Regions from separate parts of the Homo sapiens genome. Here all the other regions are linked to region 1. Evidence: fine-mapped expression QTL. A gene starts in region 1. Each other region holds a variant in brackets. All regions are shown on one strand. Distances are between the middles of the regions. Region 1 holds the start of SCML4 (Scm polycomb group protein like 4). Region 2 overlaps SCML4 (Scm polycomb group protein like 4). Region 3 overlaps SCML4 (Scm polycomb group protein like 4). Region 4 overlaps SCML4 (Scm polycomb group protein like 4). Region 5 overlaps SCML4 (Scm polycomb group protein like 4).

Region 1 (4,119 bases):
TTATAAAAGTTCTTGCAGCAAGTGACAGTATTTGGGTCTGGCTTGTTTTCTGTGGGCTGAGCTGCTTAGCTTACCTGCTGCTTGCTAGAGGAGACAGCCTTTCACCCTCACCCCCAGGAGTCAAGAACCAGAAAGTGAAACTGCTTCTGCTGATTTCCCTCGCCTCGAAAACACACCACCAAAAGCAAAGAAATGATGAAAAGCAACTTACTCGTTTCGCTTATTGTTTTCTTGTCTTTCTATTACCGTTCATTTACTCTTTTCTTTTTTTCTTTTCTTTTTTTTTTTTTGCAGCAAAATAAAAGTAATTTTGGGGACACAGGGAAGAAATGTAAACATGTTATACATGAAAGAACTGGATTTTTGTGGGCTTTGCACTTTTGTTATAATTCCACAAATGAAGCAAACTGATGAATTTACCAAAATATTTCAGAGCTCATCTACGTACACAATTTAAAGAGCTAAAGAAAACACATTCATATTTTTTAAAAATTCTGTCAAAAAGCCTGTTTAAAAGTTATAGTTTGTGAAGCCACCAATTTCCCTAAAACTGAAGATTCTACATTAACCTTTTGAGTTTAGACGATCACGCAGTACCGATTTTCTAGGTAATCTTCACCCAGCTGCTGTTGCTCAAACAGCCCCTCATTTTATCAGACTAGTTCTACCAAGCAACACAAAAAATGCTCCACACAAATATTATACCCCCCAGATAGTTTAACACACTAAGAATTCCTTTGTAGTTATTTTTATGCTTTCACTCCAGATATTCTATTTTGCTTTAAAAAAAAAAAAGTGGAGAAAAAAAGCAGCTATATCCCTCATTCTTCAAAAATGGTTCCTCTGGTTGAAAAGAAAGAAAAACAGCATATAACAAATACCCTGATTCTGAAGTGCCTGGATTACTTTCTCAAGTACTGTAGTGTCTGAGATCAGTAAAAAACCACTTTCTCAGAAAGCCACTGATTGTCTAACCCTCATGAGTACCGTCATGGAATCTAGAGACAACACGAGGAGACACCTCTCGTTCACGATCACAGATAGTGGAAAGAACTTTGACTCAAGCACCTCAACTCAGCAAAACAGCTCAGCAGCCTGCACCCTGGCCTCATCCACCGCTCCTGTCCAGCCAGCAATCAACCTGGAGAGGACCCCTCATGCTTTGGGAGGAGCACGTGGAAGCTGGTTCAAGTCACAGTGCTCCACCTGGGAAGGAGGTGATTTTGAGCTTGGGAAAACTGCCGCTAATACTCCATAGTCACCAGTTTTTTTCCCAAAAAACGAATTAAAACCAGAAACTAGCAGTAAATATTATTCTTATTTATGCCTCATAAATTAGGAAAAACCAGCACAAAGACATGTGAAATATTCTACCTGGGATATTTGAAATAAAATTAAATGGGAAAAAAAACACTTTTACATGTTCATAACATACCAATTTTAATAACCAAATTTTAGGTAAATATTTTTATCCCAAGACATAGTACAATTTTTTTAAAATTAAAAAGCAAAACAAAGCAAAATTATCGTGAAGGGAAAAAATAACTAACCGGTTACTTGAGTTCACATTTGGAAAAAAATAACTTTCTAGGTATTTAAATGCAGAGTTAAAGAGTAATGAACATGTATATAGCCCAAATTTATAAACTATATAATTCAATGTTACATTTTCCCCTCTGAGATCTGGTTAATAAATTAAATGCTGTACTTTGCATATGAGGAACTAAAGTTTACCTACTGGACTCAGTGGTTTTAGTGCAGGACACTCTTGTGCGTTGCCATAGAGGTAGGCATGCAACCCAGAAAAAACTGAAACAGGTAACCTGTCATGCTGACAGTTACAAGAGAAAGATCCCGTGTCAACGGCACGCCTCCAATTGTGCATCTCCCTTACCTACAGCTTGTTCACCAGAGCCCTGAGCAGGTTGTTTACCAGGTCGGGAGTGTTGACTCAGAAGACAGATGACTTTCAGCACATGCAAACCGAGTATTGCAAAAGCTATCTTCCACCCGTGTTAGTAGCTCACAGTTAGTCTCCAGCAGCCCTGCGCTCCAGCTGCAAACATCTCATTAGACTAATGCATTCAGCACAGGCAGAAAACTCGATTTACCATAGCTACAGCAATGAATTTCCATTACGATGACAGCTTCAACCACATCATGTCCGGAAAACCAGCCAACCACTGGCTTTTAAAGAACACACACATTTTACATGCAGAAAACGAGGCCTCTGTGTGTGTGTGTGTGTGTGTGTGTGTGTGTGTGTGTGTGTGTGTGTGTGTGTGTTTTGTGTTTCCTTCCTCTTAGCAGCCTAAGAGAAATGTGCAGTGTAGCTTTTTGTCGACATGAGCTGCAAGGTAATGACACTTCTGCTTCTTTGGTAGTTACATCCTTGTAATAACCTGAATTATGTCACAATGGTTAGAATGGGTGTTTCCAACATTTCAGTTTTCATTACCCCTCCTCTGTTGCCATAGAAACCAGACTGTAACATCGTCTCTTTGTCCCAATCCTGCAGCAGTGTGGGCCAACACCAGGCTTATAAGACACTGGTGATCTGACAGAGTGAATGTTTGACTTTGGACAAATAAAACAAAAAGAAATATTACAATAGCATCATTGTTCAGGAGACCCTGTGTGATTCCCAGAGCAGTGTGCCTATCCAGGTGTGTGCACACACCATGGTTGTACATATTAAATCAGCGGCTGCCCACAACATATGTGTACAGTTCATTAAAGCCGGCCCTGACTTTGGCTCCAGGCCTGTATGTGTGTGTGTGTAAGCATCTCTACCCACCTCAACGTGGTGGGACCTGCACAGGATAGAAACAGGGCAAGAGTGACTATTCATTCCCATGCCCCATTGCATTTTCTGCAGCAAATCAATATATATCGGCGAAGGGATCTTTTCTTTTCCTTTCTTTTTGTAAAGTGGAGCAGGGCTCCCCATTGCCCATTTCATCCACTCTGGGATATTGGCATATTCACAGGTATTTCCTACAAGATGAAACATCCATTCTACAAACATGTGGCTTACTCCTAGGGATGAGCAGCAAACAAATTTAGCCGGGACTAAATATCAACCAGGGCTAACGAAGGCTTAGGCCACAACCTGGCCAGTTACTGAGAGTGAAAAAAACTGCAATGGACAACTTGAGGTTTCTCTAAATATATGTGTAGAGTCACATTAGAAGTACATAAGAAATCTCTCCTCTGAAATTTATTATGAAAATATAAAAAATTGTTTTAAGTCAAAGCCTTGTAATTAATTGAGCAAGAAGAAATTCACTACTTTAGTTCATTTAATCATCAAATTTTGTTGTTTTGTATGGGAAAAGGCAGGTTTGGTAGTTTGCATTTTCATTTCATATAAGTTGATTTCACTAAAGAAGGAGGAAGAGGAGAAGAAAAGAAAATAAGATGGATGGGCCAGGTGCAGTGGCTCATGCCTGTAATCCCAGCACTTTGGGAGGCCAAGGCGGGTGGATCACGAGGTCAGGAGATCGAGACCATCCTGTGAATGGTGAAACCCCGTCTCTACTAAAAATACAAAAAATTAGCTGGGCGTGGTGGCGGGCGCCTGTAGTCCCAGCTACTTGGGAGGCTGAGGAGGGAGAATGGCGTGAACCCGGGAGGCGGAGCTCACAGTGAGCCGATACCGTGCCACTGCACTCCAGCCTGGGTGACAGAGCGAGACTCCATCTCAAAAAAAAAAAAAAAAAAAAGAAAATAAGATGGATGGGCTAGGTGTGGTGGCTCATGCCTGTAATCCCAGCATTTTGGGACTCCTGGACTTGAGGTTAGGAGTTCGAGACCAGACTGGCCAACATGGTGAAACCCCATCTCTACTAAAAATACAAAAATTAGCCAGGCTTGGTGGCGCTTGCCTGTAATCCCAGCTACTCGGGAGGCTGAGGCAGGAGAATCGCTTGAACCTGGGAGGGAGAGGTTGCAGTGAGCTGAGATCACGCCATTGCACTCCAGCTTGGGTGACAAGAGTGAAATTCCATCTCAAAAAAAAAGAAAAAAGAAAGAAAAAGAAAAGAAGAAAAGAAAAGAAAAGAAAGAAAAGAAAAAGAAGAAAAGAAAAGGAAAGAAAAGGAAAGAAGATGGATGATT
Region 2 (4,119 bases), 120 kb before region 1:
CAGCCGCCATTTGTGTGTCTGAAAAGGAGGCTACGATGTGCTTTCTCAAGTACTGCACATGAAAGTGGGCCTAACGGCATGGCATGGACTATTTCTTATGGCCTTCATCTGGATTCTAACTATATAGAGGGTCACTCTGCAGATCTACCCAGGGCTGCCCTCAAGGTTATACAGGTCATGCTCTGTACAACGGCAGCTGATCAAGCGGTGAGGAGGTTGAGCCCCCACCCTGCTCCACTTGCCAGCTGAGACCCCTGCTCAGGTTGTATCCCAGAGAAAGGGGTGCCTTTTCTGATTCACCTTTGGGCGAAGGGAGGCCCTGAGTCATCCCTAACCCTCTCCCTCCCAGAAATTCCAAAATCTAATGTTCATCTCCTCATCTCCAACACTGTTGATGTCCTTTTAAGGAAGAGAATATGCACATGGCAAAGGCGAATTCATTTTGAAGATATGTTTTCTGCTCAGTGTGAAAGAAGAAGAAGAGAGGTGGAGGGAAACAGAGAAAAGAGAAGGATAAAACGAATGGTGGAGAAGTTGTGCCTCTGCCTAATAAATTGTGGATTCATTGTCCGTCTCTGGACACAGCTGCAAAGGAGCAGAAAATCAATTTTTTCTATTACTCCACTGTGAGGAAGGAAAACCTATTTGTAAATTGAATTAAACCCCATAATAGCATGTCTGTGTATTTGTTGAGGACTAGAAAAATTAGCCACAGATACAACTACATAACCCAGCAATGTAACTAGAAATCAACACTCTCCCATTTCAAAGCTTCGTTGAGACATTTTCTTTTCCTTTTTTAAAGAAACACCCATGGCTAAATGTCACTAAGATTCTTCGGCATGCCAACACTTCAACACCTCAATAAGGACTCTGGAAGGGAAGGAACTCCAAAGTCCCATCTGGGTAGAGCGTGCTTCCAAATTCTTGCCTTTGCTAGTTGAGTATCAGTCAGTCAGTCAATAATGATTGGATACGAACTAGACCCCTCTAGCTGATGGTTTCTTCCCAAGTCGCAATCTGTGGTGCTAACTGTGGAATAAATCCCCTGTTTCTGTGTGGGCTAGATCTTGTTCACAGACACCCTAACCCATCCACTCAGTACTGAACAATCCTGCTACTGCAGTCAGTGAGGGTCCTGAAATTTCATTAGCAGTCTGCCCTCTAGCGGAGAAACACAGTACTTCAGATTTTCTAGGAACAGAAAAGATTTTTTTTTTTTTCCTTTTTCTTTCACGGCGTAAAATAATTCAAGTTTTCCAGACAGTGCAAGGTGAGGCAGTCATCTTCAGAAGTCAGCTTCCAGAGCTGAGGCAAACAAGGCTCACATGGATAGGTCCCCAGGTCAGAGTTAGAGGCAGATGGTGCTGAGGGGGTTGTCCCTGCAGAGACCGCAGGGACAAAGGTCCTTCTTTCATCCTTTGAACCCTCCAGAACTCTCCTTGGGCATAAGCATTCAGTTCCCCACTCTCTCGTTATGCAAATAGGACCCACTTTAAGAGAAACCAGCATAACAGGGATGTTAAAAATCACAGGCTTTTGTAATTTTTTGGCAAATTATGAACACAGAGGAGCCTCTCGAAAAGGTCCATGTTAAATTCTTCAAAAGGCAAAGATTCACAAGTTTTATAAAAAGACCACGTCTCTGTGGCTGTTAATTTTAAGAGGAGAGTCTAGTTTGTGATGTTGGCGGGATATTGGTAAGGCAGAAGATAATCTTGGGATCTGTTGTTTTGGGTTTCGCTTCTGTCTTTTTAAAAAAGTCAGAACTTGGCTTGCTTCAGTTTGTCAATGTGGTAGCAGAGTTTCAGTGCAGGTCCCAGCTTCAGGCCCAGGTACTTCATGACCATGTCACTCTTCAGCAACAGCAGAGCGTTGCCATCAATCTCCTGGTGGGATAGGATCAGAAGAAAGATAAACCCAGAAGATGGTCAGAGTCATCGAACAGTGGCTAAGGTTAAGGTGTGGTCAAGGGGTGTGCTCAGGGCATATGGATTGATTTAGGCAGCATATTCTCTTGGTCCTGGGGCAAGGTCTTTTAAAATATTAAAGCAAACAAATACTGTGTTCTCCTCTCCCCATCATCTCCCTGGAGTCATTTGATACACGGGGTGTTTCATATTCCTGCCCTCCCCTCATAGAAGGAATCAAACACAACCTCATGTGTGTTCCCAATATCCCACTTAGGAAGTTTATCTCCTCATCCAAACTTGGCTAAAGGGGCAAAAACCGTCATCCATTAGAACCTGGAACTAGAGGGTCTTTCCATTCCAAACCTCCACCTATTGCCCTAATTTCTCATTTCTTAGTAGGCCCACCTACCTTTAGCTGATAACAAAGCAACTCATTCCACCTATGGAAGATTTCAGGTGTGTTTAGCCCTGTCTATTCCACTAGATGGAATACACTAAAGAATGCCCCTGCTTCATCTCAGGGTTCAGCACAAAGAACTACTAAGAGGATGAGCCAGTCCTT[T/G]GAGGTTTGGTCCCGGTGTTGCTGCCATTGGTCATTGAAAATGGTCACCCTCCAGAATGCATGTGGAGTTCATGAACCTAGCAAGGCTGGGCTTCCATGGTCACCTTTAGTGCCATTTTCAGGTCACTGGAGACAAAGGGTAGAAATTTCAGGTGCTCAAGCAGGGAGAAAAGACATAGTTACAGGATTCATATAATGGTGCCAGGGTCACCAGCTCTCTCATTCATCTGCCCAGCCAGCCAGTATTGATGGAGCACCCACTCTGTGTCACTCTCCATGTCTTTGGCAAAATGGCAGTGGGCAAGGCTTACTTGTGGGCCACTCCCAGGAGCCTCATTTTCTACTGTCTTTTATTTCCCTCACCTCCTGGACTCCCACTGTCTCCTCCCACCCTGGAAGACAGCCAGACTCCCCCTGCCCAAATCTGTCCAAGCATAACCCACTCTGTGGTTCTTGGTCTTAAGTCCCCATTGTTAGGTGAGGTCAACATATGCCTAATAAAAGGCAAGTGCTGAGTTAGATGAGAATCCTCCTAAGATTGGAGAGCATGATTTCTATGACAGAATCACCAAATAAAATAAGAAACAGGAAACAAAAATAATGGTCACTGTGGAAGGCGGAATAATGCTCCTTCCCCTCCATGCACGACGTCTGGATTCTAGTCCCCAAACCTGTGAATGTCAAGTTACACGGTGAAGGGGAATTAAGGTTGCAGATGGGATTAAGCTTGCTAATCAGCTGACTTTAAAGTAGGGAGATTATCCCGGATTATGGGGCCAGGTGGGTGGGGGGAGTGGCGGCTGTGTAATCACAAAGCTCCTTAAACGTGGAAGAGGACATCAGCAGTGAGAACCAGGGATGGCAGCCCGAGCAGCCGAACAGGCCTCAGCTTGATGTTACAGGCTTTAAAGATGATGGCAGGGGGACAGGAGCCAAGGACTGATGGTGGATCTAGAAGCCAGAAAAGACAACCAAGCGGATTCTCCCTAGAACCTCCAGAAGGAAAGGCAGCCTTGCTGGCTGAGCCCACTGAGACCCATGCCAGGCTCCTGATCCCCAGAGTGGTAAGACAGAGAATGTATATTGTGTGAGGCAACTACGTTGGTGGTAATCTGTTACAGCACAATATAAAATGAGTACAGTGCCATGCGCGGTGGCTCACACCTGTCATCCCAGCACTTTGGGATGAGACCAGCCTGGCCAACATGGTGAAACCCAGTCTCTACTAAAAATATAAAAATTAGCTGGGCGTGGTGGTGGGTGCCTGTAATCCCAGCTGCTCGGGTGGGCTGAGGCACAAGAATTGCTTGAACTGGGAAGGCAGAGGCTGCAGTGAGCCGAGATTGAGATCGCACTACTGCATTCCAGCCTGGGCGACAGAATGAGACTCCGTCTCAAACAAAAACAAACAAAAACAAAATGCATATAGTAAGCCTGGCAGGTAAATTATTGATTCTTATCTTTAAAAAAATTACCATCTCTATATTTTAGCATATCTCAAAATCATTATAATGCTATCTGCTCAGTGAAGGCTATCCGAGTCAGGAACCGTGCTGAACACCTTTTGTGCATTTTCTTATTTAATCCTCGAAGTGGTTTAGGAACAGGTGCTACTGCGGTTTGCCTGGCATGTCGTTGGTGTGC
Region 3 (4,119 bases), 67 kb before region 1:
TGTTGTTCCAGCTACTCAGGAGGCTGAGGCAGGAGGATTGCTTGAACCCAGGAGATCGAGGCTGCAGTGACCTATGATCACACCACTACACTCCAGCCTGGGCAACAGAGACAGACCCTGTCTCAAAAAAAAAAAAAATTACTAGAGAGGAATCTGTTCACTGAACCCACCTCAAATGAAGTAATGGAATTATAATTGGCTGTTACTTCTGTCCATTTCTGCCCAACTGAAATTACAGGGATTAGATTAAATTGCCTGATTGCAAGGAAACCTCCTGTATTTATCCAGTCTCTAAAACAACTGCTAGAACTTTTGAATGAAAGAAAAAGTCACGAGCAACTATGGGTAGTATATGGCTTTTTAAAAATATCCTTCGCTAGATAAAAAATCACGAGTAGAAATACCCTTTTGACTTAGCATTCAGAAATTTCAATCTCATTGCTTAATATAAAGAATAAAAAGTAGCCTAGTGTAGAAAAGGGAGTCACCCATGATTTTGGAAAAGTCCTAAAAAAGAAGAGCACGGATATGAGCCCACTGGCTAGAAGCTTTGCTCTAGTGTGATGCAGGGCCCAGTCCATCAGCACAAACCTCTCTCCAGTGGAATGGGGGGGTTCTCTGCCTGTCGCAACCTATCCAAGCTGTTCTCTGGCAGGGCATTTGTCTTTGTTGTTGCCTTAGGTTTCTAAAAAAAAAAAAAAAGCTGTCTATTTTGTTTTTTAAATGGACAAAATAAAACACAGTTCTGATATAGTGGTTTCTAACACCATTCTTCAATGTAAGGAAAAAAAACTCCTTGCAGACATGGCTGATTTTAGGATTAGGGTAGGGATTACACACTGGGAGCCTAGAGCATCTTGTAATGCCAGAAAGTAAGACAACACTAAGGAAACAAAACACACACAATGGTGGGGACTGGTTACAGGGACACAGGTGCCAACTGAAAGAGCTCCCAGTGGCCAAATTCGGACCAAGAGGAACAACAAATAAATAATGTAGTAATGGATTATAACTCAAAGTATGAAATAAATATTCATGAATCCACACTGACATAAATAGGTGGTTGACTCAGTAAATAAAAGGGAAAGAACAAACAACTCTCCCATGCATAAAAATTTCAAATAATTTATGTAGACACCCCTCCCTCAAGTAGGTGAAGTGCAATTCCCTACTCCTTACGGATGGGCTGTGCACAGTGAGTACTTCCAAAGAGTACAGTAAGGAAATGAAGGGGAAATATAACTTTACAATGGAGAAACCTGATAAATAAGACTTCAACCATAGGATCAAGGTCAACATCATCAGTGATAAGTCATGTCACTAGCATGTACTCTCACCATATGATGAAAATGCCACGTCACCTCTGGGATCTTCTTCCCCAAGCCCCCTAACCCTAGTCTAATCATGAGAAAAACATTAGACAAACTGAAATTGCAGAACACTTTACAAAATACCCAACCAGTACTCCTCAAAACTGCCAAAGTCATCACAAAAGGAAATTCTGAGCAACTTTCCCAGCCCAGAGGAGCTTAAGGAAACATGACAACTAAATGTTATGTAGTATCTTGGATGGGATCCTGGAATAGAATAGAATAGGGAAAAGCTAATTAAATCGGAATAAAATATTGACTTTATTTAATAATGAAGTATTATGATGGGTTCACTAGTTGAGACAAACATACCACAGTAATATGAGATGTTAAAAATGGGGGGAAATCAGGTGCGGGGTACGTGAGAATTCTCTGTTTTATCTCTGCAATACTTCTGTAAACTGAAAACTATTCTAAAATAGTGTTTGTTTTCAAAATATTAAAAACAGGATGTGGCAGAATAAACTGGGTAAAT[G/T]GAGAGGAGGAGAGAAGAGAGGCCTCTTCCTGGCAGCACAGAACTGGAAGCAGCTTGCTGTGCAGGACGCCATGCTCTGACATACAGGAGCTAATCCTGGGCCTTCAAAGCCAACATCCCTGCCCAAATGCTAGTGCAGTTGCCACCTTTACCTGAGATTCAAAACCTCAACCCAGCAGGTGTGGCGACCCCTCATCCAAGGCAAGGTCTGTGCTTTGCCTCATTAGAGAATACTGCTGGGACAAAGCGGTAGGGCAAAGTGTCCCTACCAGCTGGAGTCTCCACCAGGGGGGCTGGGGAATCTGGAATCAGCTCATCTTTCTTTTCCATTTATAGAACCAAAATATGGGCCTGGGGAATTTCTGGCTCCAGCTGTCATTTAGGGGAGGACCTTGTCTAAGACATTTGCTAGAACATCACTGGAAAGAATTGGGAGGGGATTTGGGGGGAAACGGAGATGTGCGGTCAAGAGCACACTAAAGGGGAGAGGATCGGTTGATATAAAACTCAAGGATTTTTCTAGAAACATCTGGCTTTGGCAGTAACAGAAATGCCAACTAAACATTGTTTGACAGACTGGTAGCAAGAGGTGGATAATCTGAGGATGGAGAGTGTGGCTGGGGAAGGATGAGGATGTATAGAGGCTGCTGGCACATCCGCAGAGGGTAAGCCAACAAAGCAAGATTTTAAAATGTGTTTAGGGCAGCAGTGGGCACATGCAAAGGAATACCAGCTTTGGATCTGGATTGAATGTCCAGCGTGGCCACTCGCTGATTCTGAAGCTTAGTACTTAGGCCCTCAGAGCCTGCCTTTCCTCATCTGTAAAGATAATAGCCCTCACACAGGGATGTAGTTAGAATTAAATGCAGAAGTTTAGCATAATGCAAAGTGAGAACTCAATAAAAGTTAATTGTCATTATTGGTGTTAGTATTATTATTGTTACTTTTAGAAATTCCAAAAATGCAAATAAGTCCCAAGTTTCTTGTTCATGAAGTGATGGCAGGAGGAGGAAACTGCCCATCTTTCCTGGAACCCATCTACATTTTCCATGCTTATCTCTTGGGATCACATCTTCAGAAATCTCTGCAAATCGACCCTTTTTCCTCACACCTCGCAGATGATCCCCTCTGTGAAACATGCTTCCAATCCATCTTGAAATGGTTCCTAAGTGTTGCTTATGTAATACCTATCCTTTCCAAGTGGCATCATTTAAGCCAAATCTAAAAAGGAAAAAAAATCATTCATTCAATCAGACAGACATTTATTCAACAAAAACTTCTTGAGCACCTACTATGTGCCAGGAACTGTTCTAGGTGCTGAAGATTCAGCTGTGAATGGGGAAGATAAACTTCTTGTTCTCAATGCAAGCAACTAGGTGACCAGGGTAGGCCTATAAAGGGGTAACATTGAAGTCAGGATGTGAGTGGCTAGAGGTAGCCTGTTGTGACTGGAGAAAGCTTTCCAGGCAGACAGAACAGCTTGTGCAAACATTCTAAAGCTTGGCTTCTTCAAGAAACCAGAGTGGTTGGAACTGTGGGCAAGAGTCAGAATGGTGCAAGAAGAGGTCAAGTTAGGTGGTTAGGTTGAGATAATGGCAGTTTTCTAACTTAGCGTTATGCATTGAATTGTGTCTCTCTAAAAAGACATAGGTTCAAGTTCTAATCCCCTGTACCTGCAAATATTGGCTTTATTTAGACATAGGGTCTTTGCAGAGGTAATTAAGTTAAAATGAGTGCATACTGCATTAGGGTTGGTCTTAACCCAATGACTGGTGTGCTTATAAGATGAAAAAAACTTGATACAGGCACAGACACCTGTTTAGAGAGAATGCTATGTGACGACAGAGGCAGAGATTGGAGTAATGTGTTGATAGCCAAGAAACAGCCGGCAACCACCAGAAGCTAGGAAGAGGCAAGAAAGGACCCTCCCCTGGAGTCTTCAGAAAGAGAGCATGGCCCTGCTGACACCCTGATTTCAGTCTTCTAGCCTCCAGAAAGGATGTTTTAGCCACCCAGTTGGTAGTTCTTTGTTACAGCAGCCCTAAGGAAACAAATACAGTCAGGATAACAAGCTTGGATTTTATTCTATGAGTGATGGAAATAATTACAGGATTTTAAGCGGGGAAACACACAAGCTAGTTTTCATTTTATAAAAATAAATATGGTGCTAGGCCCAGTGGCTCACATCAGAATCTCTGAGTGCTGTTATCCCAGCACTTTAGGAGACTGAAGCAAGAGGGTCACTTGAGCTCATGAGTTCAAGACCTGTCTGGA
Region 4 (4,119 bases), 92 kb before region 1:
AGTTCTATAAGTGTTACTCAGACACAGTAGAAATTGTGAAGGTGGTAAATTAATATTTGGAATGCATTGAGCTAGCCCCAACCTATCTCTTCAGGCAGGGTGTTGTCTAGAAAAGAAACTATGGTAGATAACTGAGTCTTTTATTTGAAAGCTTCCCCAAAGAGATTTTACAATCTCCTTTAGAGTGAGGCCATTGTGCTATGAATCTCATTGCCTAAAAGTTCCTCCTTACATCTAGCCTCAATTCTTCTTGCTTCAGTTAAAACACATGACTGCTGGACATGTACCCTTTACACTATCCAACATGTTAGGTCACCTCAACATCCAACATGAGGCAGATGAATTCTAGGTATGCAGAACTACTAGGAGCTTAAGAATTTAATTGAACTGTGACATATGTTTCTTACCTAAATCCAATATTTAAAGTCAGTAAAAAGAAAGGACCAAGTCTGTATCTGGAGAGGGAACCCCCACTTTTCAAGCGCTTTTGTGGCTGACTGGTGAGCAAACACCAGATGGGGCCAGCCGACCTGTTGGAGGATCTAACTCCTGCACACAGAGTCCCGGCAGACCGTAGGGCTCACAGGCGAAGGCACTCATGGTCGAAATTTCCTCCTGTGTCCATACAAAATCGTTTTCCATCTGAAAGAAGCTGTCTTGTCACCCTGGCACTGCTCATCAACAAGAGGCTCCAACCCAGCCTGTGTGAGGCCATTTAATTGCAGTGGAGAATGCCAGCTTAACAAAGCAAGGTAAATGAGTGGCTTTTTACTCACTTCTGTAACCCTCTGCATCCAGCCAAGAGACTAATGTTGCCATTTAAGAATCATTAAATCTTTTCCTCCAGAAAAAAAGAATGATCTGCCTTTTGCACAGTCACGAGAGCATGCTTAAATAGAAAGGAAAACACACACGTGGCCCCATCAAAGAAATCTGCCACATTTTCAAGGTTTGGCGTCCTGGGAGCTTTCAGGACAGACTGATGGTCCTTTTTCACCATCGCTAAACCTGCTTGTGGACTATGGTTCCCTCCAGCCACTGTGTATAAAGCCTGCCTATTAGTGAGGCCAAAGAACACTCTAGAAGCATGTAAACCCACTCAAGCCTCAAGGCATACCTGTTTGCATATGAACCTGAACTGTGCCTAAGCCTTCCGGTTTAGGGATCAAAGCTTCAGGGTTCTGAGTCCAGAGTGTGTGGATTCCTCCCTTGCTCCCTGATCCTTGCTGAAGCCTGGGGTGGAGATAGGGTTAGGTAATGCCCCTGCATCCATGGCTTCCAGGACACCCAGGTGCAGCCCATTTCTGCTACAGTCCTGGAGGGTCAGGTGTGAGCCCCTGAAATGTAGAGAACCTCCAAAGAGAGAAGCAGAAAGAGGAAGAGGTGCAGGAGAAAGCCACGAGCCAGAGAGAGAAAGAGAAAGTCCCAAAACAGAGCGGCAGGGAGGGGAAAACGGACCTTATGTATAAAACTATAGATGCTCCTGACCAAGTGTCAGCTCTCCTCACTTAGGACACAAGGCTTAACTGCTTACAGCCCAGTGGGCTCGGACTATTGATTTTATTTTTAAAAACTAAACTGGCATTTTACCTGGATTCACTAACCAAATGAAGTCCTGAAACACAACAATTCCACTATGCAAAATTATTCTCACATAATACCTATTAAGGCAATAAGAACCACAACATCTAGTCTTAGACACTATTTGTCATCTCTAAACAGTTCTGCCTGTTTGTCTTTCTCTCTCTCTCTCACCCCCCACTTCCCGCATCAGTCTTCCCAGTTGAGGGAGCAGCTGCAGAGTGAGCCCTTTCCACAATCAGCACGACCACCTTCCTCCAGACTGGGAGCCCTGGCCTTGCTCAGGATTGATTGCCTGACCCCTTTGCCGGTCTGCCCAGCCCTGCCGACCCCCACACCCTGCCCAGGCAATGGTCAGTGTCCTGTGGCCTCCGTGTGTGAACAGTTTGGTTCGGCTTGCTGACAGAGATGGCAACATCAGAGATTCCTAGCCCTGAAACCCAGATTAGAAAAGGCAGGAGTGCAGTTCGCAGATTTGTAGAGCTGTGGAGCAGCTACCCCTCTTTGCTTAGCCAGGTGCCATCACCTAGATAGTACAGGAAAAGGAGACCTGCGAGGAGAGGGGCAGGAGGGAGAAGGCGCAGGAAGCAGTAGCAGGTGCTCGTGCCAGCTGCACCTCTTTTACTCAGAGCCCAGACACAGGTGCTTCGGTGCCTACCTTGGTGGTTGTGTCTCTGCCACCCGGCAGCCTCTCCCACT[G/C]TCCTCTGGGGGACCGCCGGTTTCCAGCACGTGCTTGGTGCTGTGGGATGCAGAGGGGCCTTCTGCTGTGAATCTCTAACGGACTTCCTGGTGACCAAAACCTGAAGGTTTCCTCCCCTGCATGCAGCCTTTCACTGAGGCTCCTGTGGAGGTTTGCAGATTTTCTTTTCTCAAACTCAGTCCCGCCCCTTGTTCTTGCAGATAAGGGAGTTTTCCCTTAGGGCCCTCTGTGGCCTCCTGGCCCAGCCTTTCTGGTTCAAAGGGCACAGGGCCATACTACCTATGAGGCTGAGCATTTCATTTGCTTCAATTAAATTTTCCATTAACTTGGTCTCTGGCCAGTATGGATTTTCTCTCTAAGGTTGTCTCTGCAGTTCAGATCACTCAGCCCTGAGAATCAACCTTATGACTCCCCTCTGGTCCATTTAAGTACATTTCTATTTTTTCTCCCCTAATGAGATGCACAGCAACCGACCATAATTTTAATGCCTGACACCTGAACTTCTTACATCCTCTCAGATGTTTCTGGTTTGCCTAAGACTTTGTTCTAAGCCTAGGGGTTGATTTCCTCCTTTGGAAATTTTGACCAAAGGCATTTTTGACCAAAGTCATCTGTTTGGGATAATGAATGGCCTTTCTGTGCTCTCGGGAGGAGAGCAGGTTCCATACCACCCTCCATATGATCTCGCAGCTTTGCCAAACCTCCACGCCAAGCTTATGAGAATTCCCGAGAGCTGGGGGAGGCGAAGTGGGTGGGACATCCTGTGGTCACGCTGTTTCCTCCACAGCCCCCACAATTTTTTGGTCTTTCATAGAACCTTGGGGAAATTAAAAGTGGTCCTTAATCAGGAAAATGCTGAAGTTCCTGGAATAGAGGACGCCTTGTAAGTTTCCTTTCTAAATGGACATCTCGACTTTGAGAGAGGTTCACAGCACTCCTAGCATTGCTCACTCTGGTGGAGCAAGTTGCTGTGCTGTGAGATGCTCTGCAAAGGGACCCATCTGGCAACAAACCAACAGCTCATTGGAAACTCAGTCCTGCTGACAACCATGTGAAAAAGCTGGAAAAGTGGGTCCTGCCCTAGTTGAGGTTTGAGATGCAGCCTTGTGAGAGATTCAGAACCAGAAGGCCTGTGGCTGCACCTGGTCCCCTGACCCACAGAAGCTGTGAGACCCTAAATGTTATTTTAAGCCCCTAAGTGTTGGGGGTAATTTATGACACAGCAAAAGATAACTATTGTGGACAGAAGAAAGGAAGCCGTTTCATTCCTCTTGATTCTGCATGTCCAGATTGGAAGTTGTCATTATTAACTCAGCAGTAGCTAGGATAGATCTGGTACAGAGTATCTGCCCACTTCTCTGCCAGGGAGTTTATGTTTGTTTGTTGTAGTTTTTTTCAGCAAAGGGTTTGTTGCTTATGAATGAAACACAGAAAGCACCACTATTAGGAGAGAGTTCATGAAGTTCATCTTAGAAGCCTACTGGTTTCCTAAGCTGCTTCAGCTCCTCTTGGCATGGTTTGCCATTCTAACCCTAGTTCTCAAGCATGGACAACAGATAATGGTGTGAGTAGCCTGCAGATAGCAGTACCTTAGGGTCCGCCACAGGGGCTCAGGGTTGTGGTCCAGGGGAATAACCAGAAGGGGTCTCTAATACAACCTGTGCAGGTCCTGGAGGCCTCGAATGGCTGCATCTCACATACCCTGTCCCTTTGTTTCCACCAGTCCTTGTGCTTCCACTGTTCTGAGGTATAATCAGAGAACTTGGTTTCCAACCCCTTGGATCTACTTAGATGCCTGGCCCATCTCCCGGACCTACTCTTCTGTCAGAGGCAGGAGC
Region 5 (4,119 bases), 100 kb before region 1:
TGACCTCAAGTGATCCACCCGCCTTGGCCTCCCAAAGTGGTGGGATTGCAGGCATGAACCATCGTGCCTGGCTGGTTCTAATACTTCTAAGTTATTAAAAAGACAGCCAGGATTCAGGGTTCAGGTATTGATGTTCTTGGGATGAAAGGCAGCAGGCACAGGTGGACTCCGTGTCTCTGATCTCATCCCAGATCCTGACAGGCAGAAGGGCCTGAGCTAGGGGGCCTCTCCTGGGGTGCAACCAGGCTCCAGCAGAGAGGCTTTCTCAGAGCTGGAGGCTGAGGAAGGGTCTGGGCTGCCCCTCGGCCAGTCGTCTGGCAAGATTACTCAGACTGTCAGGGCCTGATTCCAGGATGATATGAGTTAGCTCTGTGTCCCCACCCAAATCTCACCTTGAATTGTAATAATCCCCATGTGTCAAGGATGGAGCCAGTTGGAGATAATTGAATCATGGGTTTGGTTCCCCCATTCTGTTCCTGTGGTAGCCAGTAAGTCTCACGACATCTGATGGTCTTATAAAGGGGAGTTCCCTTGCACAAGCCCTCTTACCTGTCACCATGTAAGACGTGCCTTTGCTTTCCCTTTGCCTTCTGCCATGATTGTGAGGCCTCCCCAGCCATGTGGAACTGTGAGTCCATTAAGCGTCTTTCCTTTACAAATTACCCAGTTTCGGGTATGTCTTTATTAGCAGAACAGACTCATACACAGGAGAACAAAGGGCCGGTATGGGGATGAAAGTGAAGGACAGGAGGACATCCTAGGGCTCAACTGGAAGGAGGTGTGAGGGGCTGGGGGACAGGAGCTATGCTGAAGCCCTCTGAAGAGCCCTGGATTCCCTGGCCCTGGGTCACCAGTTGGACTGAACAGGGCAGACTGTTGTTGAGTGAGTGATAGAAGTTCTCTCCAACCAAATCATGCCTCCCTCTTACTGCTGGAAATCCTGCATTTAAGACATAGGGCTGAGATTGCACCAACGTGAGTGGGAGAGAGAGTAAATATCTCCTTTTTAAAAAGTGGGACTCTGGGATTATGAGTCAATTCAATCAGCATGGTGTCCTGTGATCACCACCCTGAGAAAAGGGGAATGGGGCTGAGGAGAAGAGGATGAGAGAAAGACATTTAAACTCAAGAGGGACATAAGGATGAGTGTTTTGACAAGAAGACAAAGGGACACCGTGAGGGCACAGACATGATGCATGTTTATTGAACACCTACCACATGCCAGATATTAAGCTAACACTGGGGACAAACCTATGAAATCAAGGCTGCCCCTGGTTTACTTTACAGTGTTGGTTCGTGAAAGATCTTGTCCCTTTCTCTTGTTCTTAGGAATCAAATGGAACAATGTTGCTCTCCTTTGGAAAATAGGGCTCTGCTCACTTAATCTGCCTGGCTCATGGCCCTGTGTGACAGTGTTGGAAAGTGGCCTGCAGGGCATCTCTACATTTGGTAAGAGCTGCTGTGGAGGGAGAATCTGCGCTCTACCCCTCAGAACGCCTCTCCGGCAAGGGGCCCCTTCTCACCTCTCCATCCTTGGCCAGGGGAAGCTGGTCAGGGCCACGCTCATCTGGGTTGGATGAGGCTCTTGGAAGAGAATGTGTGGAGGGTCTTGAATCATACAAAATAGCTCACGTGTGCGGCTTGCTGGGGTCACTGGTGGAAGGA[T/A]CCTAGGCTCAGGGGAGAAATGTGACTTGCCACAGAAGACAGAGCCTGCCCACTGAGGGGCTACAGGGTGGCAAGATGAAGACTCCCAGACTCCTTGGCCTGGGGCCTTCTTTCTTCAGCAGTTCTCAGCTGTGGAGCTGATGGGCTGTGATCTGTTAAGGGATGTGTTAAAAAGATCTATGCTGTAACTACTAACATTTATTGAGCTCTTGTTACCTCCTAGGTCTTGTACTAAATGCATGTATGAACTCATTTAATCCTCCCAACAATCCTATGAGGCAGGTGCTGCCATTATTATTATCACAATTTTATAGGTGAGGAAACTGAAGCACAGGTAAGTTAAGACTTGCAAAAGGTAGGCAGGAAGCAGCAGATCCAGCATCTCAGCCCAGGCTGTCTGGCTCTAGTCCCAGTGATTATCCACTATACTCTATGGCCTTTAGGCACTATCAAAATACTGAAGCTTGAAAATGATTTTTTAAAACATCAATCAGAAGGGCCTTCAAGCTATTACTATAATCCTTTAGCCCTTATAGCGCTTTTGTAGACTGCATTCCAACAAGCTTTCTTTAGTGGATGAGACAGAAGTGGCATTACAACCAGCATTGGGGGAATTTTGCCTAACTCTGCCTCTGCTCATGTATTTGTATCCTGAAGGTGACACTTCCTATGCAAGAGACAATTCTTTACCAAGGTCTGGTTCTCCTTTCTCCTGGGCAGAGCTAACCTACAGCTTCCAGAGTCCCTTATGGTTAAGTGTGGCAAAATGACCAGCTTTTGCCAATGAGATGTGAGTGGAAGTGATGAGCATCACTTTCAGATTGCAGGGAAGCACCTGTGTCTTCTCCACACCTTCTTTCCCTTTCTATTCCCTAATGCATGGGGCATGAAGGCTGTAGAGGGTGGCAGAGCCACAAAATAGATGGAGCCTATGTCCCTATATTGAGATGCATCCATGAATCAGGAACATTCACCTTTGGCTCTCGAACAAAAATTTCTATGGTATTTGAGCCTGTGTACATTTTGGAGTCTACGTATCCTGTGGCCTAGCCTGCCCTAATACACGATTTTCTTTGCTTATCAAAGGTTGAGTTTGGCTGTTTTTGAGAACCTCAAGATCCATGAAAGGACTTGTGGAAATTTCTGATCTCCCAGCAGTCCCACGTTTAAACAGCCACACTCCCCCTTCCCCAGATGCTGTGCTCCCCGCGCAAGGGCAAGGGATGTTAAGTCAGTGGGAAGCTGATGCATGCATTACATTACCACATCTGTTTCCTTCAAGAGAGGTCGTGTTTCTCTTGGGGCTGGAGGCTGGAGGCCTCAGCCCAGGTGCCGAGGGGCCACCAGAAGACATGGGGCTAGTGCGGGGACCACCAGCGGTGGCAGCAGGACCACCCCCAAGGTGGCTGTCTCCAGAGTTCTGCCTCTTGCAGTACAGCGAGGAGGAGGGGTGCAAGGAGCCCCTGTGGTTAAAGGTGGAGGCGGAGGTGTCCACGCTGTAGCGGTTCATGCCCACAGGGTTCACCAGGTACTCTTCGGTGGTGACTGTCTTGACTAAGCAATAAGGCAGTACAGAGAAGCAGATATCAGAGAGCAGTTCAGGAAGCTATCAGACCCTCCGTCTTGGCAAACCCTGCCCTGCCAACACAGTAGCCAGTATTTGTGAGCATGCAGAGAGGAGAAATGAACCTCACAACATAATTCCAAATAGCATACCTGTCAGCAGGCTGAGAGCTGCTTTGCCCACAGGAGCATATTGTAATAGGAATTAGGAGGTGTGCTCCTCGGTGCTTAGAGGAAAATTGATATTTTGGCCATTGATGACTTAATAAGCCCAAATCAGGCCAGGTGCAGTGGCTCCCGTCTGTAATCCCTGAACTTTGGGAGGCCAAGGCAGGTGGATCACCTGAGGTCTGGAGTTCAAGACCAGCCTGGCCAACATGATGAAACTCCATCTCTACTAAAAATACAAAAAATTAGCCGGATGTGGTGGCAGGCACCTGTAATCCCAGCTACTCAGGAGGCTGAGGCAGGAGAATCGCTTGAACCCGGGAGGCAGAGGTTGCAGAGCAAAACTCCATCTCAAAAAAAGAAAAAAAAAAAGAGTAAGATCAAAGACTTTCTTCTGCAGTGGCTCTGCCCTCACAGTCTCTGCTGGCTTCTCAGAATCTCCCTGTACTCCCTGCTCTTGCTCACCCACCAGCACAGCCCCCCTCACCTGGCTCAGGACTCCTGGGAGAGATCAAGCAAGAGTCACAATGTCCCAGAGTCAGGAGAGACAACTGTGGCCTGGGTGGTGGCCCAGGTGCCACAGTGCTTTCTCCCCACACCTTTAGTCCTGATACAAACACATGAGGGCAGCCATCCTCCGCCACGGCTAACAAGCAGGGATGCAAGTGCTGATCTGGATAGCCCCACAATCCTCCCCAAACCCTTCACAGGAGAGCTAAAGAG

The links.
Region 2: its variant is fine-mapped to the expression of SCML4 in whole blood (INTERVAL, PIP above 0.99).
Region 3: its variant is fine-mapped to the expression of SCML4 in whole blood (TOPMed, PIP above 0.99). The same link has a PIP of 0.9 or more in blood mononuclear cells.
Region 4: its variant is fine-mapped to the expression of SCML4 in whole blood (TOPMed, PIP above 0.99).
Region 5: its variant is fine-mapped to the expression of SCML4 in whole blood (TOPMed, PIP above 0.99).

The regions. Positions count from the first base shown.
Region 1 is chr6:107,822,232-107,826,350 of GRCh38, forward strand. SCML4 (Scm polycomb group protein like 4) reads right to left here and starts at 2,082. Exons shown (of 8, transcript NM_198081.5): 1 at 1,895-2,082. RefSeq lists an enhancer at 165-234.
Region 2 is chr6:107,703,437-107,707,555 of GRCh38, forward strand. SCML4 (Scm polycomb group protein like 4) reads right to left here. Exons shown (of 8, transcript NM_198081.5): 8 at 1-1,889. The coding sequence ends at 1,764. Among named protein-coding and RNA genes, the nearest start is that of SCML4, 120 kb to the right of the region's middle. The variant T/G (reference allele first, on the strand shown) is at 2,476.
Region 3 is chr6:107,754,980-107,759,098 of GRCh38, forward strand. The region is part of intron 2 of SCML4 (Scm polycomb group protein like 4); the gene reads right to left. Among named protein-coding and RNA genes, the nearest start is that of SCML4, 67 kb to the right of the region's middle. The variant G/T (reference allele first, on the strand shown) is at 1,846.
Region 4 is chr6:107,729,735-107,733,853 of GRCh38, forward strand. The region is part of intron 5 of SCML4 (Scm polycomb group protein like 4); the gene reads right to left. Among named protein-coding and RNA genes, the nearest start is that of SCML4, 93 kb to the right of the region's middle. The variant G/C (reference allele first, on the strand shown) is at 2,281.
Region 5 is chr6:107,717,775-107,721,893 of GRCh38, forward strand. SCML4 (Scm polycomb group protein like 4) reads right to left here. Exons shown (of 8, transcript NM_198081.5): 6 at 2,929-3,219. Among named protein-coding and RNA genes, the nearest start is that of SCML4, 100 kb to the right of the region's middle. The variant T/A (reference allele first, on the strand shown) is at 1,666.